4 linked regions of the Homo sapiens genome follow. The protein of the gene in region 3 interacts with the protein of the main gene of each other region in a biochemical or structural test. Each region holds a gene or a part of one and is shown on either strand. Other genes may lie near its edges.

Region 1 (7,575 bases), on a different chromosome or scaffold from region 3:
GGGGCATAAGCATCAGTTCCCCAGACACAGCACCAGCTCTGGCACATCGTGGTCACATGTTAGCTTTTTTTTTTTGCGATGGAATCTTGCTCTGTCACCCAGGCTGGAGTGCAGTGGTGCAATCTCGGCTCACTGCAACCTCCACCTCCTGGTTTCAAGCGATTCTTCTGCCTCAGCCTGAGTAGCTGGGATTACAGATGCATGCCACCATGCCCAGCTAATTTTTGTATTTTTAGTAGAGAAGGGGTTTCACCATATTGGTCAGGCTGGTCTCGAACTCCTGACCTCGGGTGATGCACCCACGTCGGCCTCCCAAAGTGCTGGGATTACAGGCGTGAGCCACCGCGCCCAGCCAAGCTCTCTGTTGATATACAAATGTCAGGCTTGGGAGGCAAGGAAGATGCAGTCCCTCTATTCTAGGGGCTTACAATTGCTATGGGTGGGGAATAGCAATATATTCCTAAAAATAGTGGGATGGATTAAAATAAATTTCAAGATGTAGAAGTGACAGAAATCAGGAATAGATGAGATGTGGGTGTTGAGAGCAAAGGGGGCACCTTCACATTTTGGGGCTTAACTGTGAGTGACGTGAGGGCCGGGGACATGCTGGCCTTCTCCACTGCTGATGCCTTTGCTTAGCACATGATCTGGCCTGGTAAATACCAAATGGAAGAATGAACAAATGAATGAAGAAATGAAAGGGAGTGAGATGGGGCACAGCACGAATGGGAGAGCCAGGAATGTAAGATTTTTTTTTTCTTGCTGTATCCCTGGGACAGGGTCTGGCACACAGCACTCTGGAAATATCTGTGGAATGAATGAATGAAATTGCTAGCCTGTGAGTACTGTCAGGGCAGAAACCATGGCTGTCTTACTCCCAGCTGGGCTCCTGCTTAATAGGTGCTCAATTAATACTTGTTGACACCACATGAAGCTCTTCCATCTAGAAATGAGTCTTGCAGAATGTTCCCTTCTACCTGGCTCCATTATTTATTCAACCAACCAATCAACTTTGGAGAACCTATCAGGCAGCCTGGAAGCTTTTATATAAGCCACATCAATTTAATTCCTCCCTCATCTTTTCCAGTTTGCCTTGGCCAGCTCGGCCTATGAAGACTCCAGGAAATGGTTCTCAACTGGGGGTGATTCTGCCCCCCAGGGGACATTTGCAATGCCTGGAGACACTTTTGGTTGTCATAGCTGGGGAGAGGGGGCAGGGAATGCTAATGACATCTAGTGGGAAGAGGCTAAAGATGCCGCTAAGCAACTCACAATTTACAGGACAGCCCCTACAACAATGATCTGGCCTCAAGTGCCAATAGTGCTGGGGTTGAGAGACACTGACTCCAGACGGGGTAGGCTCTTTTTGTCTCTGCCTGGTGGACTCTGGCAGCATGGCTGGATGGCAAGCACCTTGAAGGCAGGCACTGCATCTGTCCTGTTCATGCAGGGAACGCAGGTGTTCATGGATACATGTTTACTGAGCGATTGTGACTCTGCAGCCTGGGAGGCAGGTAAGTCCTTCAACCTTTCTGAGCCTCCTTTTTCTCCCTTAAGGCAGGCAAGGCCTACCTCACCTTCACCCTGAAGGTATCATACTGCTGCCCCTTCTCACTCCAGGCACAGTGTCATCTGGTGTCCCTCACCCTGTTTCCCACCACCTAGGCCTGGCCTTGAGAGGTTCTGTGGAAGGAATTTTGGGGAGAGGACACCACTTACTGTTGATGGACTTGAGGTCCCGGTGGATGATGGGCACAGGGGCATCATTGTGTAGGTAGTTCATGCCCCGGGCCACCTGCACAGCCCAGTTGACCAGCACGTGAGGTGGCACCCGGCGACCTGCCAGCACCCTGCTCAGTGCACCACCCCGGGCATACTCCATCACTAGGCAGAGGTGTGGGGGGTTGAGGCAGGCGCCCCTAAGGGCAATTATGTTGGGGTGCTGCAGGGCTCCAAAGAGCCGGGCTTCCTGGCACACCTGCTCCGCTGTCACTGCCGGGTCCTTCTCAGGGTCCAGCCGGGCGGCCTTGACTGCCACCTCCTCGCCACGCCACAGGGCCCGATAGACCTTGCCAAAGCCCCCCACACCGATGATCTCCTCTAGCTGCAGCTCGTGGAAGGGGATCTCCTGGGGCAGCTGGAGGCCCGCGGGTGCAGCGGGGGCGCCGGGGGCCACGTAGTTGCTGGGGAAGACGCCCACGCGGCCGCTGGGGAGCTGCCCGGTCCACCAGCCCTCGTCGCCGGACACCGCACAGTCTTGGGAAAGCACCTGGACGCGATCGCCCCTCCGCAGGGTCAGCTCCTCGTCGCCCGCCGCCTCGTAGTCGAACACCGCGGTCCAGACGGGCCCCGCGGGGGTCGTGCCCCACTCCTTGGCCACCGCCCCCTCCTCCTCCTCCATGGGGGAGGGGCCGGGGGCTGCGGGAGGCCGCTTCACACAGGCTGCCCGCGGGATGCAGAGGGCGGGCCCCGGCGGCCGGGATGGAGGGCAGTCCCTGCGGGGTCTAGGGAGCTCCTGAGGGCCATGGCTGGGGCGCCCTCCGCAGGAGCAAGAAAAAAAACCCTTTCAAAGGGCAGGCTCGTCCCTTCCGATTTGGCTGTACGGGCGGGGCGGGGCGGGGTGGGAGTGGGGCGGCAGGTTCACCCGTGCCCCCCAAACGGCAGAGGGCTAAGAGGGCCTGGCCGCGCGGCTCTCGAATGCCCGCCGGGGTCCGCCGGTGGGGGACGAGGGCGAGGGCGGCAGGCAGTCCCCGTTCCCCGCGCCGCTCACCCCGCGCAGCTCCACCGGCGGCCCCCGGCTCCGCATCCCGGGCCACGACTGCCGGGCCGGGCGGGGGTGGCGGGGCCCCTGGGGCGGCCGCCCCGGGCCGGGGTGGCGCGCCCCTCGGCCTCCTCACGCGCGGGGCAGCCGGGCGGCCCCCATCCTTGGCACCGGCCTCCCGGTCGGCCCCAGCCCCTGCCCCCCGCCCGTGCTGCTTCCCCGGGCCACCGGCGGGGCCCGAGTGACGTGTGGGCGCCGCCGCCGCGGTGCCTCCTGGGAGTTGTAGTCTCCGGCCGTGCGGCCTCGGGGCCCGGCTCTCAGCGCCCTCCAGCAGAGCCCCGCGGCCAGCCTCGGGCCGCAATGGACATGACACCCCACGAAGCCGAAGGAGTCCTCCCGGGGAGATGAGCCCGGCCTCGGCCCCTCCTTCGGACGCGGCGTAGCGGGCGCCCGGGGCGGGGGGAAGCGCTCCTCACAGACCCTGTGGGGGCCGCGGCCCAGGATGGGTTGGACTGCAACGGACGCGATTAGCAACGCGAAAAATAGGAGCTGCGTGCATGACTGTGACTGCCCGGAGCCGCGAACGCAGCCTGGACCTTATCCCTGAGGCAGGACGGCCCCTCGGACCCCCCGACCGAGATGTACGCTGGGAACTGTAGTCCGCGCGGGGACCTGGCGCTGCAGGGGGCGGCCCCCAAACAGCGGGCTGCGGGCGTCGGCGGGTGGTTGGAGCAAGTTAGGGGTCGGGCCGGTGGCGGGACTCTGCGGGGAAGATGGGGCTGGGAGGATGTGTTTAGTGTCCCTGGGGATGTCACAGCCACGTCTGCTTTCCCCACCAGCTCTGGGTTCCTCTGCTGAAGTCAGAACTCCTGCTCTTGAGAATCCCCGATTCCTATTTTATAGGAGTTTCAATTTCGGGGAGCTTAATGTGCATGTTGTATTCAGTGCTTTGTACACGTGGTATCGTTAAGTCTTCACAAAGAGCCCCATTTTACAGATGACTCATAGAGAAGTGAAGTCATTTGTGCAAGGCTACAGAGCTATAAATGGCAAAGCAAAAATGAAAGGCAGTTTTAAAAATTAACAACCAGGCCGGGCGCGGTGGCTCACGCCTGTAATCTCAGCGCTATGGGAGGCCAAGGCGGGCGGATCACGAGGCCAGGAGTTCGTGACCAGCCTGGCCAGCATGGTGAAACCCCCGTCTCTACTATTTAAAAAAAAAAAAAAAAATTAGCCGGGCGTGGTGGTGTGCGCCTGTAATCTATCCCAGCTACTCGGGAGGCTGAGGCAGGAGAATCGCTTGAACCTGGGAGGTGGAGGTTGCAGTGAGCCAAGATCACGCCACAGCACTCCAGCCTGGACGACAGGGCAAGACTCCGTCTCAAAATAAATAAATAAATAAATAACCATCGCCACGATTAACAAAAACAACAACAACAAAAAAAAAAACAACAAAAAACAAACAAACAAAAAACCCACTGCCTTTCTATTTAAAGAATGAGGAAAGTAGGTCCCGCAGAGGTTCAGTGACTTCTTCAAGATCTCTAAGCTTGTAAGAGGCAAAATTCTGGGTCTTTTTACTTGGCCTCTCCTGAGTGGTATGGGGTCTAGAGGGAGGAGAGAAGAAGAGGAAATAAGAGGGACTCTAGTGCCCAAACTCCAGAGAACTGCCCCTCAGGGTCCTTGGGGAATTGTTCCATTGTCAGAGGGAAGTGGGTTACCTGGTCTCCTGGCTACCTAGCAGGGACACTCGGAGCATATCAAAAATGCTTGTTGGAAGAGAGAGCCCCAGCTTCATTCTGAGTATAAGTGTTTCTGCTATAACCTGCTATATGCATTCTTAAAAAACCTTCAGTTCTTCAAAACGGTGCACTAAAATTAACAAGACTTCATGGAAAAAATAGAGTTAGAGACAGATTGCTCAAAATATATGCAACTAGCTGGGCACGGTGGCTCATGCCTGTAATCCCAGCACTTTCAGAGGCCGAGGAGGGAGAATTACTGGAGTCCAGGAGTTTCAGACTAGCCTGGGCAACATAGGGAGACTCCGTCTCTACAAAAAAATAAAAAATTAGGCGGGTGTGGTGGTGTGCACCTGTGTTCCCAGCTACTCGGGAGACTGAGGTATAGGGGTATTACCTGAGCCCAGGAGGTCGAGGCTACTGTGAGCTGTGATTGTGGCACTGACTGCACTCCAGCCTGAGAGACAGAGCGAGACCCTGACTCAAAAAAAAAAAAGTAAAAATAAAAACCTGTATACAACTTTTTTTTTTTTTGAGATGGAGTCTCACTCTGTTGCCAGGCTGGAGTGCAGTGGCACGGTCTTGGCATACCACAACCTCCGACTCCCTGGTTCAAGTGATTCTCCTGCTTCAGCCTTCCGAGTAGTTGGAATTACAGGTGGGCGCCACCATGCCCAGCTAATTTTTGTATTTTTAGTAGAGACAGGGTTTCACCATGTTGGCCAGGATAGTCTCGATCTCCTGACCTCGTGATCCGCCCGCCTTGGCCTCTCAAAGTGCTGGGATTACAGGTGTGAGGCACCATGCCCGGCCTCTTGTATACAACTTTATATTCAGAGTGCTACAAAACCAATAATGATGCTAATAGAAACACTAGAATAGGTAAATTTCCATGAGCATTTGCTTTCAGCAGCACTTTGCAGCCTTGAAGGTGGGGCTTATGCTTCCTCTTTGGGGATGCTGGTTGGAGATATTAACTATTGATGGGGATCATTTTCATCAAAACTCGAAATGTGATCCAAGGTGTGATCTTTTTCATTAATCTGTTATTTTAATATGGGAGAAATATATTTGCAATTTCTTCATCTGCATTCATGGATTTGCCATAGGCATAACACTGTGACAAATATGGTGGTCTTTGAAGTCACTAAACCAGCCACCGTGGATCCAAAGGAAGACACTTCTGTAGATTTGCAGCTTTTTCCTCTGAAGATCTTCTTTTAGTACTAAGGCTTCCCCTTTAACTGTGAGAAAGCTTGGCCCTGATTGCTTCAAAATGTTAACTTCCTGGAGAAAATTGCATGTTAACCAACATGCTTGTGTTATGCTGACATCATTACTCTGTTTACCAATCATTTATGGGGTGATTCATCTCAAAGAAGCAAATAGAGGGTGGGGGCGGTGGCTCACACACCTGTAATCGCAGCACTTTGGGAGGCTGAGGCAGGCAAATCACCTGAGGTCAGGAGTTTGAGACCAGCCTGGACAACATGGTGAAACCTCATCTCTACTAAAAATACAAAAATTAGCCAGGCGTGGTGGCAGGTGCCTGTAATCTCAGCTACTCAGGAGGCTGAGGCAGGAGAATCGCTTGAACCTGGGAGGCGGAGGTTGCAGTGAGCCGAGATCGAGCCAGTGTACTCTAGCCCGGACGACAGAGGGAGACTCTGGAAGAAGCAAATGGGCTGCAGAACAGGTTGTCTCTGGGCCCGGTGCGGTGGCTCACGCCTGTAATCCCAGCACTTTGGGAGGCCAAGGCGGGTGGATCACAAGGTCAGGAGTTCAAGACCAGCCTGGCCAACATGGTGAAACCCTGTCTCTACTAAAAATACAAATTTAGTCAGGGCATGGTGGCAGTCACCTGTAATCCCAGCTGCTCGGGAGGCTGAGGCAGGGGAATCGCTTGAACCGGGTGGCAGAGGTTGCAGTGAGCCGAGATTGCGCCACTGCACTCCAGCCTGGTGACAGAGTGAGACTCCATCTCAAAAAAAAAAAGAAAAAAAATTATCTTGGATTTGGCTGCCTTGTTGAACTCACTCTTGCTTGTTCTAGAATAGCTTGACAGATAATTCTCTTCGATTTTCTAGCTAGATGATCCTGTTGTCCAGAAAAAAGAAAAAAATTACAGCTTTAAAAAATCTGATGTCTATGCTTTTTTTCTTAATCCTCTCCTCTTTGGCTAGGAGTTCCAATACAATGTTGAATGGCAGTGGTATTAATGGACAATTCTTGTCTTGTCCTAGACATTTAAGGGAATGATCCTAAGGTTTCATCATTAAATATGATGCTTTCAGTAGATTTCTAGTAGAAGTCCTTTATCAGGTTCTATTCCTAACTTGCTAGAGATTTTTCTTTCTTTCTTTCTTTCTTTCTTTTTTAAATGCAGGTGTTACATTTTATCAAATGCTTTTTATGCATTTATTTATGCAATCAGATGGTTTTTCTGCCTTTAATCCATTAATGTTGATTATCTCCTCTTTCTTGCTTTCACCATTGCTGGATTTGATTTAATAATACTTTATTTAGGGTTGTTTTGCATTTCTTTTCTTTTCTTTTCTTTTTTTTTTTTTTTTGAGACAGCCTTGCTGTGTCATCCAGGCTATAGTGCAGTGGTGATATCTCAGCTCACCCACCTCCTGGGTTCAAGCGATTCTCCCACCTCAGCCTCCAGAGCTGAGACTATAGGCGCATGCCACTGTGCCCAGCTAATTGTTACATTTTTAGTAGACATGGGGTTTTGCCATGTTGGCCGGAGTGGTCTCCAAATCCTGGCCTCAAGGAATCCACCTGCCTTGGCCTCCCAAGGTGCTGGGATTACAGGCATGAGCCACTGTGCCTGGCCTGCATTTGTTTTCATAAATGGAATTTTCTGGTGTTATTCTTGCCTAGTTTTGACATTGGCGGAATGCTAGCCCTATTCAATGAGTTGGGGAGCTTTTTTTTTTTTTTGTGGTGAGAACACTTAAGACCTACCCTTATAACAAATTTCAAGTATACAATAAAATCTTATTAACGATAGTCGTGTCATTGTACATTAGATCTCTAGAACTTATTCATCTTGCATAACTGATA
Region 2 (5,070 bases), on a different chromosome or scaffold from region 3:
GAACATCGACTCTTCCTCACTGATATCCTTACTCCTCCCATATGTTCTGTTAGACCAGGTGGCACATAAGTCTTTGAAAACTGAAGTGACTTCAGGAAGACCCAGCAGGGCAGGAGATAAGAAGTGAACAAGAACCAGGGCTGGGGCTGGGGTGAGGACTCCCACTGATGTGGTCAGTGGTGCCAAAGATAGAAGATAGGATGGCTTCACCCCAGGAGCAAACCATGGGTCACAAAATCCTGTGGTATCTGAGAGGGATGAGAGGTATGCCAGCTTCCCAAGGCCATAAGGCTGAAAAGTGGCAGAAGAGGGACAGGAGAAAAGTTTTTGGCAGTCTCCAGAAGTTGGTACAAGGACCAGGCTGGAGCTGGGGCCACAGACAAGGGAAGAGAGCACCTCACCCAGTCATGAGCCCCATCTGCCAGTCCAGGGCAGCAGGGAGGCATTTCTTGGTCTTTGACCTGCCATGGGCTTATGAGACAGAAATGAAAGCACAGCCAGCATCCTCTGCCACAAAAGACCTTTAATGGCCTCCTATTTATTGTTCTTTTGTTCATTTGTTAGAGTTGAATGAACTATAATAACTTGTCTGACATAATAAGAATGCCACAGGTATAACAGATAAACCTGGCAGGTGGTCCAGGAATGAGAGTGTCACAAAATAATCACTCAACACAAGGGCCACAGACCTGGAGATTCTTCCCAGCCATCCCTCACTCCTGCCCCAGGACACAACCCATGCAGGCCCCCATTCCATAGGAAGAGGCAGGTCCCACAGTGTCTGTGGCTAGACCTTAACACTGAGCAGAGATGCCCGGGAAGATGGCACTTCCTATGCTCGTTCCCAAGTGCTCTGCTCATCTGCCATGCAGGTCAGGACCATACCCCGAGTTTGTGAGGCACCCACCTCTCATACTCACCACCTCATATGACCACCTATCATACCCACCTCTCCTATGACCCTTGCAATTGTCCCAGTGAGGTGGGAAGAGCCTGGACTAGCCCCATTTTGCACACAGGGAAACTAAGGACACACTCGGACCGAATGTAATACACCCGTGTCATGCGCTTGCTGTGCCCTGAGCTTCACATTTTCACCTAGAATTCCCTGGGGGGTGGGAGTGGGGGACAGGGCAGGCAGGGTTTTGTGCCAAGGGCTGGTCCAGTTCTCACTAAAGTGTCCAGGATTCCTGGGGGAATCCTGCCCTCAAAGGAGGGACTTTTGTCATAAAATCCTCCCTGAGTCTGTCTTTTATGTGAGCCAAGATTTCCATCCATCCGGCGCTGTGTAAAGATGAATTTAACCCTAGCCTCTCTCCTATCACACTGCTTCTCCTGCTGTGTCCCTTGGGCCTAGGCCAGGAAAGTGGGGTGCCAGATAGGGGTGCAGACACAAGTCCTCAGTGGGGGATTGAGCCTGTTTCCTTGCTCCAGAGCTCCCCATGCTTCATGGGCCAATATCAGGGTCACGACCCATCCCCACTGAGCACCAGGTCCCTGTCCAAATCAAACCTTGGCCAGAGCTTCAGGGTGGGTTGGCTAGAAAAACCATCAACTATGTACGTGTGTGTGTGTGTGTGTGTGTGTGTGTGTGTGTGTGTGTATAAATGCTTGTGCCTGGGTCTGTGACCCAAGTTCCAACACAAAGACACTTTGTACTGGAACGCTGGAGCCATTCCAACATGAACAGCAAGAATAGAACCTGTGCTGGCTGGTCTAAGATCAAACCTCGAGATGGTGGTTTGAAGTTCTTCTTCAAAGAAAGCTTGAAAATGAAATCTCAGTAGGCAAGACAGATAAAAGCAGAGTTATTCTGGTGGCGGCGGAAATGGGAGGAGGGCTGGAAACCTATCCTTTGCCTCCACTCCCATCTTCCCACTTTAGCATCCCCTGACAAAGCTCTGTGGAATATCAGGGGTTCCGCAGCACCTGGTTTGAAAACCACTGTGTCAGTGTCTACAAACCATAGGCCCCACGGACCTGTGCTTTGACTTCCCTTTTGGGGTGACGAGTTGGAGTGTGATGGGGGGAGGATGTTTCCCCTTCAACAGGGCGTGTCTTTGAAGCCGCTGTGCAGTGACCCTGTGGGGAAGTGGTAGAGGTGGGGTCCTGCCACTTTCGTCCAGGAGGAATGGCAGAAGAGATGGAGCTGCCTGGGCCAGGAGGAAACACCAAGCCCAGTGCAGGCCGTATAGATGAGGGTTCAGGAGTGTTTTGGTCCTTTTGAGTTTAAAAAATTATAGATATCAGAACAGGCATAGGCCTATGTCCATGAGACCCTATAAGAGTGTAAGACTGGGACCTAACCCCTTCCTCCTGGATGGGTGGAGAGCAACCAGTCCCCAGTGACAGGCAGGAGAGAAGCTGCCGCTCTGGGATGCTGACGCCACTGCATCCGCTGTGGCTCGGCTCTCAGGACAAAAGGCTTGGGTTTTTCCTGGGCCCGAAGCCCTCCCAATGTCACTGAGAAGCTGTGGTGGCTCCAGTTGCTCCTGGAAGAGGCCTTACACTTTGAAGGGAAGGAACAGACAATTTCTATTTCTCCTTGCCCTTAGATTTCTGCGGATGGGTGGTTTCAGCTCCCTGAGCCTGGGGGCTGGTGGCTCTCTTTAACCTGGGTCAGAGCCAAGGCCCCTTGGCCTCTGTGGGGTCTGAGAGATGGGAGATGTGACACCAGGCCTAGGAGGGTCCAAGATGTCCCCCTCCACCAATCACTGACAATATCCAGGTCTTCCCTCTGTGTCCTGGTTGCTGGGACCACTATTTTTGGGCATGATATTCCTGAATTGTATCTAAATTTCCCTCTCAGCTGGGTCATCAAAGCCAAATTGGCTGTATCTCATTCTGGTTGACATCTGCCTAAGTGAGAAGCAGGGCAAGCGATGAAGACTGGTGGGGAGGGCTCCTCCTGCAGCAAACTTTCTGTGTGACCTTGGGCCATCCCTGCAGTGGCAGGGCCACACACATCCAGCCATTTTCAACTTACAGAGCCCTGACCGCTGACTTTCATCTCATCTGGGCCTCATAACAATTCCTGCGTCAGGCAGGGAAGGGATTACAATCCCATTTTACAGTTAGGGAAATTGAGCCCCAGAGGTTGAGTAGCTTGCCCAAGCCCCCCAGGTGGTTGGTGACAGGCAGGACTGAGAGGCGGCATTGGGGACTTCCAGGACAGAGTTCCTTTCACTGCACCATGTAGGAACCAGCTTGTCAGGAACTCTCCCACAGAACCAACAGCCAGGTGAACCCACTCTAGCAGGTCTGAGCTTTGAGGCTGAGGAGAGGTGCAGCCAAATAACTCAGTCCTTATCTTCATGGGGACTGAACTCTTCCCCTGGGTGGAATGCTGAGGAGGTCCCGCTGGCTCTCTGCTCGGTGGGTTTTCACCGGGGCATGCTTTTCCTTCCTGCCCGGACCGGTGTCCACACGCCACCCACAGGGCACACTGCAAAGTCCCAGTGACGGATGGCTTGGCCAGTGCAGGCCCCAAACACTTGGCAGAGAAACCGCCAGTACTGTGGGATGGTGCCTGGGGCCTAGTGAGGCTCCCCCACCCCTAGTTTCACTTCAAGGTATCACCTGGGCAGGCTGACTCCAGAAAGGAAAGGGGCCCTGCAGAGAAGCACTGGCTCGGCCATGTTTGGGGGCTGGGAGGTGGTGCCTGGAGTTGACCAGAAGCTTGGAAACATGACCTGCGGCTTCCTCTCCAGGAAGAGGCTGAAGGAAACACTTTGGCCTGTGTGTCCCTCGAGGCTGCAGCGTATGGCCGTGCAGCAGGGCACCTCTGGCCAAGGGGCAAGGGGTGCTAAAATCCAACCTGTGTGTCACTCCCAAAGCTGTGCGTTCTAGTGTAGGTCTGAATCCACCTGGAAAGGGCACCGTCTTCTAATTCACATCAAGGCACCATAGGGACCAGCAGCCACCAGGAGCCCTGAAGGCAACTGCCCTCTATTACTTATCCCTACAACGTTTCCCTGACCATGGGCTTCCTGAGGACAGGGGCTGGGACTGACCCATCTCTGTGGCTCCAGTACTTGGCATAGAGCTGAGTCATCAGCAAAGGATGGTAGGCTGAATTCAACTAAATTTGGCCATTGCCTTGTGCAGTCCTGGCTCCAGGAGAAAAAAAAAAAAAAAAGATAGTGCTCTGATCCTTCCCTGCAGCTGGAGAAATTTGCTAAATAACACTGGGCTAAACCCAAAAGGGTGAGCGTGATGTTGAGGTGCAGGAGGCTCGGGAAACCAGCCTGACAAACGTTTTCCATGCATGAGTTAGGGATAGGGGAAGAAGTCTGCAGGAAAGAGGTCATCCCAAACACTAAAGGATCTTGTGTCAGCCCCAAAGGTTTCAGAAGACACTGGAGGGCATATGTTTGCCATGCATTGCTCCAGCATTTCATCAGCTCTGCGCCTGCCCAGATGAGGTGCAGCCTGCCCAGCAAGCTCTAGGAGGGGCTGGATGCCTGGGGGACCTGCAACTAGGCCCTCAAGACTGGACAGGGTAGTACGACAGCCCCCAGCTGACTTGGTTCTGGTCTGGGGAGGGGTCCCTTGGGTTGAGTGGTCATGAGACTCAGAAGTCGCGCTGCCAGGCTTGTGAAACAGGTGATTTCACCACAGGAAATAAGTCACACTGCCTGCCCCAGGAGGTGCTGGACTGGAAAGGATTGAGATGCCACTTGTATAAGATTTTTTGTCTCCCTTTTCAGACAAGTATGGGAGAGAGATGGAAGGGAGCAGAAACTGAGGAGAGAGCCCTTGTCCTGCTAATCAATATATTTGCCTGGGTAAACCTCAGGGTGTCTGTGCCCACAGGGGGCTGTGAGGTACTGCAAGCCCTATCATAAGCCCCTCAGCCAAGCCTCAGCAAAGATATGCTCTGTCCCTCCTTGGGCAACTCATGCTACCTATGGCCACAGCCTGACATCAATCCCTTCCCAGTCTTGGGCACAGGGTGGGGTTGAGGGCAGTTGGTGCTCCATAGGGCCCTGCCACCTCTGAGGTCCAATAAATCCCCTCTGGAGGCAGAGAGACCAGTCAGCAGCTCTGGCTCTACCCACCAGACCAGGA
Region 3 (7,030 bases):
CTTCCCCGCATCCCACTGGAAAAGGGAAGGTAAAACTCACCTTCTACTACAACTGGAGAGGAGGCTGGGAAACAAACAACTTTAAAGCAAAATACCCTGATTGACTGTTACTAGGTAGCAAAAAGAAAGAGGTGAAAAGGAGAGAGAAGAGGTGAACAAAATAGTAATATGGATGGCGAAAGGAGCAAGAAAACAAATTTGTAAGGTATATGAAAAAGAAATCAGTTGGATCTATATGTAAGGTTGTGTTAAAAAAAGTTACATTGCTTAATAAGTGTATAATATATTAAAAATTTTAAGGTATATGTGACTGAGAATGACAGAATGTCGCCAATGATTGCTCTAACACATTAAAAGCTAAGCGCCAGTTTAAGTGTTAAAAAATTCTCAAAACCTGAAATTCTGTCACCAGTACAGAATCTATATAAGTAGCTACAAAGGAGGTGGGAAGGGGATTAAAATGTTCAAAGCATAAGTATAGACTTGTTCTTTGTATCTAATTATGAAGTGACCAGGTGAACGAATTCTGGGGTCTCATCCAAACATCCATCTCTCCACATTATTTCTCACTAAGAAAATACTTGGTAACTCGCCCAGAGTCCACTGACAAGCAAGGTCTAAATTAACTGGAACACACTGGCTCACCTTTTCTTTAGCAATTCTGTAACTTTCTTAACATTATTAAATTAGGGAAGAAGCGTTTTTAGTTAGTCTGTCTAAATCTTTAAGACCTGCAAAAGTCAGAAAGTTAGTGCTTATAGTGCAGATTTGGGAAAGTACCAAATAGCTCCACTAGCTCATACTCAAAGGGTAAGGATGGGCAAAGGGGACAAGCAACAGTCTTGCACAAGAGAAAGATGGTGGGAAGGAAAAATGAGGAAAACTTCCAATATCCTCAACTTTACAAAATGCAAGTTCTTAGTTATGATATAATATTCACTAGTATTCACTCACATATGTTCAATTTTTCTTTTTTTCTTTTTTTTTTTTAGAGACAGGGTCTTGCTGTCGCTCATGCTGGAGTGCAGTGGCATGATCATAGCTCACTGCAGCCTCAAACTCCTGGGCTCAAGCAATCCTCTCATCTCAGCAGGTGCAAGCCACTATGTCTGGCTAACTTTTGGAGTTTTTTGTTTTTTGTTTTTGTAGAGATGGAGTCCCAACATGTTGCCCAGGCTAGTCTCAAACAATCCTCCTGCCTCAGCCTCCCAAAGTTATGGGATTATAGGCATGAGCCATCTCACCTGGCCAATATGTTCAATTTTTGAAGTCTCCCTTGTCTCCGAAATTCTGACTTCCTATTCACTTACTTTAAGTCCTATCTCTGGAGGTACTAGATAATCCGTTGAACCTGTTGATAGTTAACTGGTTACATTTTAAGTCGTGTGTGCCTCACTTTTTTATATCTGGGTGAACTATCTGTACCCTGGGGCTTAATTTGACATGATCCTCCATTTATATTTTCCCCATTACAAGTAGGGGTAAATTTGAGTCTTTTTCATTTTTCCTGGCCCCAGGCAAGTTTAATTAAATCTTAGAATAAATATCAAGAATAATATTTATTTAAGAATTTAAATTCTTAATTCTTGACACTGATGAATCAATATCAAAATGCATAGGACAGAATGCTAGTAAGCCTATAAAAGAAATAAAGCTACATGAGGGTTTTTCCTCCTCCTTTTTCTCTCTACGTATCTCCTACCCTCGTTCCCACATTTGCCCCTCATTCTCACCCTCTTACCTCAATTTTAAGATCTTTTATGTGGCCATAACTTGAAACCTACAATTTACTGTTCTTACCAAATACAGTGAGGTAAGCGGCTGTTTAGGATGTGTAAGTGTTTATAAAAACAAAAAGCAAATGGTGTTCGATAAAGTAAAAAACAAAATGAAGTGTGTTAGGAGACCAGAGTTCTAGTTCCAACTGTGAAACTGAAGTCATTTCACTTGAGTCCTAGTTTTGTCATTTTTAAATAAAGAATATTATCTTAAGGGTTTGAAAACAGTGTGCCTAAATCTAATTTTGCTTGTGTAATGGCCATTATGAGGTTTTGTAGTTATCTCCATTCCCATTCCTCTAGGTTGATAATATAAATCAGAGAGGGTGTGGGGCCGGACATAAGTGGTTTCCTATCTCCTCAGTAGTTGCTTCTGATTCCCTGGACATTCTGGATTTTTGCACTGCTGAAAGTGCATTATGAACTACAATATGAACCCACACTAATGTAAAGAAAATCAGAGCTGCCTTACTGGGTCATGCCCATAAGACCGTGCTACAAAGTCTTTCCTCTGTCACAAGCATGAAGGGTCTATTTGTCTGACACCTTCAAACTTCCAACTTCAAAATTCTGGCATGTGCCTTAAACCACAGCTACCCATAGTATATCATTATGGCTCTAACATGTAAGGCGTTATCTAAACCTACCCTAAATTTGTATTTTCATTGTACTCAGAGCAAGTTCCCCAAGATTTATTTCCTGATGGTTTATTTCTTTCAGATTTCCTTATGTCAACTTTCTGAAACTATCAAAAGGGAGCCACCCTAAGTTAGCAATTCCAGGTTGTTAGAATCATCCACCAGTCAGGAGTTGATAAAATACTCATCAAATCCCTTCCACACTTTTTAAATTCAAGTGTCCTCATAATGCCAGCTCTTTTTCTCTCTTTGGGCAATGACCACCTTATTTATTCTTTGGCCACAAAATTAAATGCCACATTACCTTCTCAAGCCTGTTTAATGAAGCACAGTACACTGAGACAGTAACTTACAATTATGTTCCTTCGGGCAAGTATCTAACTTCTATGAGCCTCAATTTCCTCATTTGTGAAAAATAAAATAATACCCAAAAGAGCTTTGTGATGATTAAATGGGAAAATATATCTAAAATGTCCAACCAAAAGCCTGGACTAAAGCAGGTTATTATTATCACAGGCACTATTATTCCTGTTCTCTCCCTCATGGGAGCAACGATTATGGCACCTTCCCTATCTTTCTGGTGCTCACCAGACCAGCTTAACCTACACAAAACCAGTCTTTCTCCTTTCATTCACAGTCACCTTGAGAGAATTAAAAGGGAAGGACTCCAAACAGCCCTGGAGATCCACACCCCACCCTCTACACCTCTGCCACAACCCTTCCTAGGCACAGCCTGGTATCCTGAGGACTCTAACAACCCCAAAAAGATGGATGCTTCCCCATGACAGGCACATAACCAGATCCCAGGGAAACTGCCAAAATCATCAGGGGAGCTCCTTAATGTCACTGATTTCTTCAGCAAAGCCAGGCAATAAATAGACATAGGCATGTCAGATATATATACATCTGACATATATATATCTCAGATATATATGTCTGGTAACACTTTGCTTGATTCCTCTTTTTTTAAATGTTTGAACAATTTGGTGTCTGTGTGTGTGTGTGTATGTTCAGATATATATGTCTGGCAACACTTTTCTTGATTCCTCGTTTTTCAATGTTTGAGCAATTTTGGGTAAAATGAAATACAATATAGCTCGAAAAAGCTGCTGTGATGTCCATTTTAATCCTCTTTCTCCGTGGTGGAGAATAATGTGTTGTTCTTAAAGAACCAAGCTGCATACAATGTAATTGTTTTCTTCATTCAAAAGGCCCACCTTGAGTTGTGTAAACTACTGGCTAATCATCTCCCTTTCACTGTGTAGCTACAAGCAAGGCCAGTCTTACGACTTGAATACTTTCTATTAATTTAAGTACACATTAAACTCCCAACCTTACCGAGCATGAAGAGACACCTGAAGATTTTCTAGAGTTGGGAGGAAACAGCTAGAAGCTAACCCACATCCACTAGCAAAAATAGTAATTTGCCCAGATTACAAATTTAGCCAGAACGACAACATTTGTTAAATTTTATGACAAATGAGTTCCTTTTATATATAGTGTTAAAAGGATTCTATTACCTTTCAAATCTGCAATGGTTTCCTCTAATTAAAGTCTTCTACTTACTTGGAGATTCCCAATCGAAATGTCTCCAGATTCAAAATGCCACTGTAAACCCTCCAGCAAGTTTAGAACATTGTAACATGAAGTGCACCATTCTTGGAGCACCAAGGCTCCAAAATCATCTCAAAAGGTGGCTGGTTGCTTGGAGCTTCCGCCCCCTGACTGAAACCTAAAATAATCTCTCTCCTCCATTCCTGAATCTGCATCACTTCTGGCAAAGATGCTTCCTTCAGACCTGAATGGCCGAAATGACTTAAAGAGGCTCAGAGAACCATGCAGTAGAGTAGTAAGAGGAGCAAAGGCTACCAGTCACCCAGGTGGTTAAAACCTACCTCTTCCGGAACAAATAAACGTCTACCCCCTCATCTATGAAGGGGACTATGTCCACTTACCTTTAAAGGGTGGTTGTGAGCATCAAATTAGGTAGGAACAGTGAAAAAAGTTGTTAACTGTTACTTTCCCTTTCTTTTTTAAGCCTCAATTAAAGTTTCTCAGGTTGTATCATTGGAGCCATCTGCACTTCCTAGAGACTACAAAGGAGACTGACCTCGATTATGTAGAATGGAGTTAGGATTATGATATCCAGACCCCTAAAAATAAGGAAACTCTATGGGCTCACATCAATCCAGCTTCTCAAATTAGTGAAAGAAGAAAAATTTACGAAAAAAGAAAACGACTCAAAATACAGGGTTAACTAATATCCCATCTTAAACAAGTTTCAGCACACATTCAGGCTAGTAAGGTATTTTAAAGGAAAATGTGAGAAAATATGTATTCTAAAAGTGAGGTGAGATGTTTTTCCACTTTTTTACTTTAATACTAGGGTTGCTCTAATTTTTAAGGGAACATAAGAAGAAATGCAGTCTGAGCTTTGAGGGGGGACTAATTTGCTGAGGTGAACTTGTATGAGGTTATGTTAAACAGTAAAAGAAATGTTATGCAACACACTGGGAAGGGCAAGCAGTTCTGGGGTTTGAAACTCTTCACTGTCTGCACAAATCAGTTCTTTAAAATTAAGATAAAGGTCTCCCATGGTTCTCGAAAACCAGACTAATTAGTAAAAACAGATAAACAAAATCAAAAGCAGGACATTTCATATACATTTTATATTCAAATATTTTTGGGAGAAATAACTACATTGATTTTAAATCTCTTGACTTTTTCTTAACAGATATACTTCATTACATTTTAAAGTACTGGGCGTGTTTTCTAAAGCAGAATCAAGCTATCATCTTTCTACTTAAACTGATACATAAAAATGCTCAGCTAAGGGTAAATAGCTAAGGACTCGACTGGTCACAAAGTTTTCTGTAAATCAGAACTTTAAGAGAATCAGAGGCACCTACAACATATACTTTCTAACTATTTCTTGTAACAAGTATTTTACAAATGGCTCAATGTTTTTCTGAATCAATTATAGATTCTATTCTAACCATTTTAAGAAAACATCTATTGAAAACTGACATTTCTCAGCTAAGCGATCTTTGAAATCTATTACATTTTAAGTGATTAGTAGCTACAGCAGGCAAATAATCATGTCTAATAACAATCTGTATATACTTATAGATATTCTATAATTTTCAAAGCACTTTCACATGCATTAAGAATGTGATTCTTACAATGGCCCTACAGGTTAGGCATTATCCCTATTTTAACAGATGAGAAATTTCTGAACAGAGAGTTGAGAAAAGTTAGGGAATTTCCCTAAAATCTCAGTGTTTGTAAACAGCAGAGCAGTTACCTTAACCATGGTTTTCTGAGTCTAAGTCCAGTGCTCTTTACACTTCAACATCCTTTTGTTTCTTAAACATTACTACATGCTATGGGAACGCTAGCTGCTACAGCTACTACTGGAAAAGGAATCATCCTGCCTATGCAATTTCATTATAGAAGCTGTTGAATTCTCAACTGGCAAGCTCTATTAATCAGAATATGCTATTCTCTAACATGCCAACCATACTATCTAGTACTATTTGCTATACATATCTAAGATTAATTACCTGGTATAACGGGATCTTCTCTTTACAGGATTCACACTAACCCAGCTAAAGTCACGAGGCTTTAGATTTGCCACAAGGGAAAGCCCTAGCCATGGCTAGGAAGGTTCTTGAATGCTACAAGTCAATTCCGTACTTTAGGTTGGCTAAAATTTCTTGGACTAAAGAATAATACTTTTCCACAGAATGAGGCCCTAATATGCAAGAAATTTTCCTATTAAATCTATCTACATTAACAAATTATTGATGAAACATTAAGAATAAAAACATTTCTCAGAGTAGTTAATTTGAGTATTGTTTCCTCTCTCAAATGCAAACTCATCCTAATGCCAAATATACTTTCATAAAACCACTTACCTAACTTGGCAAACAGATCTACATTTTGTTAGCTTTAGTCATCAAAGAACCAAAGCCTAAGAACTACTCAACGTATAAAGGTTGGGTGTGTTTGTGAATGAACATGAAAAAAAAATGAGTCAGAATGAGTGAAGACACTCAAATCTTTTGAGTAATAACAAAATTAGCAGCTATTCCCTATTATCTGAGGGACAGTGGCAAAAATGGCCAGATTAGAAGCCATAACTGTTAGCATAAACATGCAACCAAAGCTACGTCTGTTGATTACTCTTATAATCAAATTCACTATAAATCCCATTCCAACCATCTACCCATCCCCTATGAAAAAAATGAGTAGAGCAAATTGATAGCTAGACTTCTGTTTCATATCGTTCACATTGTAATTCATTTGAGAGTCCTCAGATCCAGAAAAAAACAGATCCGGAGTTTGAAGTAGAATAAAATCTCATCTAGGATACTCTGAAAGGACTGCTCAATAATGAAAAGTGGGGAAATCAACAGGTTAGAGAGAACAGTGGGACCTAGTAATATGAACTAAAGAAATTGTGTGGTAAATAATGAGAGGTTAGGGACTCATTTACCAATAGTAAAAGGGACCATTAATGAGACCATAACAATATTGTCGCTACTAACAATGATGGCTAATGTGTATTGCATCCTTACTACATGTCAGGTCCCAGGCTTACATGCATTCTCA
Region 4 (6,995 bases), on a different chromosome or scaffold from region 3:
CGGCCTCCCAAAGTGCTGGGATTACAGGCGTGAGCCACCATGCCCGGCCTATGGTTTTTTGTTTTTTTTTTTTTTGAGACGGAGTCTTGCTCTGTTGCCCAGGCTGGAGTGCAGTGGCGTGATTTTGGCTCACTGCAACCTCCACCTTCCAGGTTCAAGCAATTCTCCTGCCTCAGCCTCCAGAGTAGCTGGGACTACAGGCATGCACCACCACACCTGGCTAATTTTTGTATTTTTAGTAGAGATGGGGTTTCACCATGTGGCCAGGTTGAACTCCTGACCTCATGTGATCCGCCGGCCTCGGCCTCCCAAACTGCTGTGATGACAGGAGTGAGCCACTGCACCTGGCCGAGAAGAGCCTTGAATGACTGACCAAGGCTGGTGGATTTGGTCCCAGGAGAGGCATGCAGTACAAGGCATCCAACTGCCTATTGTTGGGGCATCAGGACACCAGGGTTGTATGATAGGTTGGGTCACCTGGTTACCTCCAAGAAAGGTGACAGGCTACATGTGGGGAGACAGCTTTTGAGTTTATTTGGCTTCTGGCTTCACTGGATCCCGAGGCTAAGACTCCAACCCTGGCTGGGGCAGCAGGAAGGCATCCAGAGAGCCCTGGCCCCAGATGACCCCCAGGGCAGGAGGTCCATGCTCTAAGCCCTAGGGCAGGGGCCGCAGTAGCAGGACTTGGTCAAAAGTGCTGGTGACAGCTGAGGCCGGCCCCTCTTCCCTGCACCTCCCCTCCTCCCTGCATCACCCCAGCAGGCAATTCCCTGAGACAGGCTCTGGTCCTCCCAACCAGCTGGGTACAGTGTTGGGCCCCAGTAGGGCAGGTGAGCTGGGGGGACCTACAGGTTTCAGATGTGGGGGCGCAGGTCCCCCTTCCAGTGTGAAGGCTTCCTGTGCAGTGTAGTGTTCCTGACCCCCAAAGGGGGGTGGGGTCCCTGGGGAAACTGAGGCAGCTGCAGAGGCTGACCCAGCTCCTGTTCCAGTGTATGCTGTGACTCCTCCTAAGGCAGCTGGAGCTCGGGGGAGTGGCCTGGCCCACTCAAGGCCCCGCTTCCGGCACCCACGGGGCCTGGGCACCCATGTCTTTGGTCTGTGCCCTGCAGTCCTGGGGGCCCCCCTGGAAGGGGTTGGCAGGTGGGGAGTCCCAGAAGGGGTCTGAGTCCGGGAACAAGGTCCAGGGTGCTCGGCGGGGTGCAGGCTGTGGTGATGGCAGGGGAGAAGGCCGTGGCCCAGCTGACACAAAGCTCCAGGGATCAATGCGGCTGCGAAGGGGCGAGGGCCGAGGTCGGCTGATGAGGCCCAGGGGTGGTGAACGTGGGGTGCCTGGGGTGCCAGGAGCAGAGCGTGATGTCCCCGGTGGGGGTGAGACAGTGCCTCCTGTGAGGATATAGGAGGGGCACAGGGTCAAGCAACCCCCAACTGCTGAGGTCCCCAAGACACTGTCCTGCTCTGGGCCTCAGTTTCCCCATGTGCACAGTGACCTACTTGACTCAACTTCCACCGCCCTTCCTGCTCCGTGGTGCCTCTGTTTTTTGTAATAGTTAGGAGTGAGGCCTCTGCAGCAGGCTGGCCTGGATGTGGATCCCGGCCCTGCCACTTACTAGCTGTGGGAGCTGTGGGTCCCTTAATCTCTGTGCCTTAAATTTCCTCATCTAAAAATGGGCATCCAGGAGCGCTTAGTTCTCTGGTTGTTATGACTAAATGAGACCATCTCGGGAAAGCCTTGCAAACAGTACTTGGCACAAGTAAGGAGCCAGGAGTTTGCTACGATTATGATTACATGTATGCTGTGTCGCCCAGGCTGGAGTCCAGTGTCATGATCACCGCTCACTGCAGCCTCAACCTTTCAAGGCTCACGTGATCCTCCCAGAGTGCTGGGATCACAGGCGTGCACCACTGCCTGGCCCGATTACTTCTTTTATTTCACAGCAGGCATCGCCCCCACCTGCCTGGACCACCTGATAGCTGAACTTAGAACTCTGCTCCCTACATGCGTCTTCAGTACCCCGAATGCCTGGTTCAGGGTCCAGCTGATGACTGTGGTCTCGGCCTTGCCTCCTTGCATGTCCCCACCAGCCACTCCTCCCTCCCTGGGAACCCCCGTCTCCCATATGTGAAGCAGGCCGGCTTCAGGCCACTCACCGCGGGGCTCCTCCTCACGTCGGGGGCTCTTGGCTGACCGCTGGCCCACAGGGATACCCAGGTCCAGCAACAGGGGTGCAGGAGTGGGCGGGGAGTCGGGCGTCTTGAGCGAGAAGCAGATGAGCGGGGAAGGGGGCGGCTCGGTCGGGCAGGGCGCGGGCGTTGGCGTGGGGGGTGTTGTCGGGGACTCCCCGCGCTCGCGTCCTGGGCCTCCCGGCGGCTGCAGGTCGCGGCCAAGGCCCAGCGAGGCGAGCAGGGCGGTGCCGCGCAGCAGCGCCCGCTGGATCAGCTTGGGCGTCCCAGAGCTGCTACCGCGCTCTGCGGGGACAGGCCTCTTGGGCTCCTCGGGCTCCAGGCTAGGCCGCGGGGGGTTACCTGCGGGCAGAGGCGGCACAGGTGAGGGTGTGGCTGGTGCATATTCCGGGTGAGGGCCCAAGACCTCTCCGTGGTCTTGGAACAAGGACTGAGTTCTGCCCTCTACTAGCATCTTCCCTGGTCCCACAGGTCCCATGGCCTCCCCATCACATACCCACATTCTGGCCTTTCACAAGATGGGCACTGGGAGGGGAGGGCAGTGCAGGTGGAGGAAGCGGCAGCAAAGCCCAATGGCAGCCAGCGACCCCAGACCCGAAAGATGGATGGGCAGTCCCAGTGGAGGCAGGCTGGGGCCAGGTCACAGTGGGCCTCTGTGGCCTGCCAGGGGCAACCTCCAGGCCCAGGGGCATGGCAGGTCCCACTGACTGGGACCGGCGCCCTGTGCTCTGTGCCCACCAGCTTCCTGGCTTGGCAGCCCTGCCCCTTCTGCCCACCCACCCCCGCTCCAGCTGTAGCTTATAAGATGCACACAGTCAACTCTAAGGTACATGGCAGCCCTGAGGGCATAAATCCCTGTCTCTATTCTAGAAAGGAGGAAAATGAGGTTCAGAGGGGTCAGTACCTTGCCCAAGGTCACAGCTAATTTACAGAGTATGTATTTGTGCCAGGCCTGAGCTGAATGGCATAGGGGCATTATGTTGTCTGATTCTCATGCCCCAGGGGTTCCAGGCTCAGAGAGGTTGAGGGCTTGTGCGGAGCTGTACAGCCAGTGAAAGGTGGAGCCGGCCTCACCCCAGGCAAGGGCAGTAGAACCTTTGCTCTCCACCATTTCCCAGCCAGACTCTGCCCTAGATTTCAAGACACTAGTGTCCTACCTTCCAGTCTAGGGTTGGCCTGACTCCATTCTAGACCACTTGGGCAGGGATGGGGAACCCCTCATTAAGGACAAGGGACTCTAGGATGGGCTCTCACAAGCCCTGATTTTGTCAGATCCCTCCTTGGCTCTAGAAACTGCTGTGGCTCTCCACTGTCACTAGGAGAAAGTCTGGCCTCCTTGGCTGGTCCTCTGAAGCCCTCCCTGGCCTTGTCCCTCTGCCTTTCCCCTCCTGCCTGGAGTGCAGCAGCAGGTTGGATGTCGGGAGGGAGAAATACAAGGCTGGGAAAAATGAGCTTCTACTATGAACCAGGACTTAGCTCACAGTCCCTTCTGTCAGCCCCAACCCTTACTCAGACTCTCTGCCTCTTACCTCACCCAACTCCCACCCCGGCCACTGCCACTGAAGGGACAAGGGAATCCTTCTAAAATGCAAACCTGTTAAAGACAGGTCTCTGCTTAAAAACTACCCATCACTTCCAGCTTCATTCACTCATTCATTCAATCAACATCTACTGACCCATGTGCCTTGGCCCCTGTCCGCAGCCCCAGTCCTGAGACTCCTCGGCTCTCAACTCTTCTCGGAGTTCAGCCAGGTTGCCTTTTCCTTGGGTATGGTGAGCTGCATGCCTGCGCACACACTATTCACTCTGGGTGGCTGACCTTTCCCACCTTGGCTTTCAGTGACCTCTTATGCACCATCCAAGACCAACTGGGATGTCACTTCCTCTGTGAAGCCCTCCCAGAATCTCCCTGAACCTACACAGTTATTGCTCACGTTATGCCTCATAGAGGTGCTACTGGACTTGTTTATGAGTCTGCCTGCTTCATCATATGAGGTCAGGGCAGTGTTTAACATGTTGATGCCTGGCTCTTAAAATGCAAATCCCTGGGCCAGGCGCGGTGGCTCACATCTGCAATCCCAGCACTTTGGGAGGCCCAGGTGGGATGATCACGAGGTCAGGAGATCGAGACCATCCTGGCTAACACGGTGAAACCCTGTCTCTACTAAAAACACAAAAAATTAGCCAGGCGTGGTGGTGGGCGCCTGTAGTCCCAGATACTCAAGAGGCTGAGGCAGGAGAATGGCATGAACCCAGGAGGCGGAGCTTGCAGTGAGCCAAAATCACACCACTGCACTCCAGCCTGGGCAACAGAGCGAGACTCCGTCTCAAAAAAAAAAAAAAGCAAATTCTTGTTTGATGAAGAATCCATTTTTATAATCCTTGCACCAACCACGAGGTTATCATATCACCCCCACTTCGCAGGTGAAGAACTGATCATTTACAGTGAGTTTAAACAGAAGAGGGGAAATCATGTTTAAAAAAAAGAAAGAGTTGGCCGGGTGCGGTGGCTCACACCTGTAATCCCAGCACTTTGGGAGGCCAAGGTGGGCGGATCACGAGGTCAAGAAATCGAGACCATCCTGGCCAACATGGTGAAACCCTGTCTCTACTAAAAAATACAAAAATTAGCAGGGCATGGTGGCACGCACCTGTAGTCTCAGCTACTTGGGAGGCTGAGGCAGGAGAATCGCTTGAACCCAGGAGGCGGAGGTTACAGTGAGCCGAGATCCCGCCACTGCGCTCCAGCCTGGGTGACAGAGTGAGACTCCATCTCAAAAAAAAAAAAAAAAAAAGCAAGAGAGGCTGGGAGTGGTGGCTCAAGCCTATAATCCCAGCACTTTGGGAGGCCAAGTAGGGCAGATCACTTGAGGTCAGGAGTGCATGACTAGCCTGGCCAACATGGTCAAACCCTGTCTCTACTAAATACAAAAATTAGGCCGGGCATGGTGGTTCACGCTTGTAATCCCAGCACTTTGGGAAGCTGAAGCAGGTGGCTCACTTGAGGTCAGGAGTTCGGGACCAGCCTGGTCAACATGGTGAAACCTCATCTCTACTACAAATACAAACATTAGCCGGGCATTGTGGCACATGCCTGTAATCCCTGCTACTTGGGAGGCTGAGGCAGGAGAATCACTTGAACCTGGGAGGTGGAGGTTGTAGTGAGCCGAGATTGCACCACTGCCCTCCAGCCTGGGCAACAGAATGACACTTCATCTCAAAAAAAAAAAAATTAGCTGGGCATGGTGGCACATGCCTGTAATCCCAGCTACTGGGGAGGCTGAGGGAGAATTGCTTGAACGTGGGAGGTGGAGGCTGAAGTGAGCTGAGGTCGCACCACTGCACTCCAGCCTGGGTGACAGAACAAGACTCCTTCTAAAAAAAAAAAAAGAAAATAGCAAGAGCAAGCTGGGTGTGGTGGCTCACACCTGTAATGCCAGCACTTTGGGAGGCTGGGGTGGGTGGACTACTTAAGCGCAGCCCAGCCTGGGCAACATGGCAAAACCCCATCTCTACAAAAAATATAAAAATTAGCCAAGCATGGCATGCACCTGTAGTCCCTGCTACTCAGGAAGCTGAGGTGGGAGGATCACTTGAGCCTGGGAGGCAGAGTTTGCAGTGAGCCATGATCATGCCATTGCAGTCCAGCCTGGGTAACAGAATGAGACTCTATCTTTAAAAAAATAAAAGACAGAAATGAGACAAAGGGAAGAGAAGATAGGGTCCAGCAGACAAAATGAGAGTGAACAGAAGTTCCTGCAGTCAATGGCCTGAGAAACTGAGGTTCTGAAGGGTAAGGGACTTGGTCAACATAATCCAGCTAGGATTTGAATCTGCCTCTAAGCTTCCTGGCAGCAAGAGTTAGCAACTCTGTTGTTTAGGAGAAAGCTGCGTGACTATTCTTGACCCAAAGATAGATAGATAGAGGCGAAACTGCTTCCGTGAGGTCTCACAGGGAGGACACAGCCACGTAGTTATTGGCTCTAAGGCAACAAGCTTCACAGGGCAGTTGCTATCAGCGTAGCTGAGTGCACCCTGCCAATGTGCCACTCCTTGCAGCCAGCTCTCCAGGGACCAGAACAGCCCACTGGGGACAGGGTGAGGGTGTGTGTGACTCTCCAGTGGTATGGCTTATGCCGGGGACCATCTCACAGGGTCTGGGACCTCTGTGAAGCCCCATTATTTGATTCTTAGCTGGGTTTCGGGGGGTGGCTGTGAGGTCAATGTCATGTACTTTCATGGACCCAGATGATGCGTGGAGTGTGGGATTGGGCTAGGGGAACCAGATGCTCAGCCAGCCACTGAGCTGGGCAGCTGACATCCTTTCAGGGCAAGTGGCAATCCATTTCTTCATCAGCCAGGAAGGGCACTGGTGTTGAGGCCGACATACTTATCAAGAACAGTAACTACCATGGTTTCCAGTGCTTTCATGAAACCTCAGACATGTGGCCTTCTGGCCACACATCTGCAATTTCATATTGTGGGAGCATTCACTGTATCCCTGGGGGCTGCGGCTCTCTCAGTTTGCAGGGGCTGGACCAAGAAAGAAGGCATTTCAGATTTCTATGGGCACAGATGTCTACAGAAGTTATGATGCCATGAAATACTTCGAGGAGATGAGGAAGGCTGCTATCTCTCAGAATGCAAAGTGATTTTGGAATATGAAGAATTTCTTTGGGTTGAATTACTTAGAAGTTTGTCACTGATCTGAACTATTCATGAATATATGGGCTAATAAGTAGTTTCTCTTCATAAATAATTAACAAATTCTTTGGATAAAAAAACATGGGGCAAGCTTGAGAACGATGGGGCCC

Evidence for each region.
Region 1: of the proteins of MAP2K4 (region 3) and MAP3K10, one has a biochemical effect on the other in vitro, tested with the Homo sapiens proteins (one study listed by BioGRID).
Region 2: the proteins of MAP2K4 (region 3) and ARRB1 interact in a test that uses a peptide from one of them, tested with the Homo sapiens proteins (one study listed by BioGRID and IntAct).
Region 4: of the proteins of MAP2K4 (region 3) and MAP3K11, one has a biochemical effect on the other in vitro, tested with the Homo sapiens proteins (one study listed by BioGRID).

What each region holds. Positions count from the first base shown.
Region 1 is NC_000019.10:40,186,858-40,194,432, reverse strand, and holds the start of MAP3K10 (mitogen-activated protein kinase kinase kinase 10), read right to left. Parts: upstream 3,008-7,575; 5' UTR 2,402-3,007; coding exon 1,720-2,401; intron 1-1,719. UniProt on the Homo sapiens protein: Activates the JUN N-terminal pathway.
Region 2 is NC_000011.10:75,259,619-75,264,688, forward strand, and holds the end of ARRB1 (beta-arrestin-1), read right to left. Parts: 3' UTR 504-5,070; downstream 1-503. UniProt on the Homo sapiens protein: Functions in regulating agonist-mediated G-protein coupled receptor (GPCR) signaling by mediating both receptor desensitization and resensitization processes.
Region 3 is NC_000017.11:12,023,877-12,030,906, reverse strand, and holds part of MAP2K4 (dual specificity mitogen-activated protein kinase kinase 4), read right to left. Parts: intron 1-7,030. UniProt on the Homo sapiens protein: Dual specificity protein kinase which acts as an essential component of the MAP kinase signal transduction pathway. Essential component of the stress-activated protein kinase/c-Jun N-terminal kinase (SAP/JNK) signaling pathway.
Region 4 is NC_000011.10:65,597,246-65,604,240, forward strand, and holds the end of MAP3K11 (mitogen-activated protein kinase kinase kinase 11), read right to left. Parts: intron 2,524-6,995; coding exon 2,149-2,523; intron 1,384-2,148; coding exon 1,046-1,383; 3' UTR 512-1,045; downstream 1-511. UniProt on the Homo sapiens protein: Activates the JUN N-terminal pathway. Required for serum-stimulated cell proliferation and for mitogen and cytokine activation of MAPK14 (p38), MAPK3 (ERK) and MAPK8 (JNK1) through phosphorylation and activation of MAP2K4/MKK4 and MAP2K7/MKK7.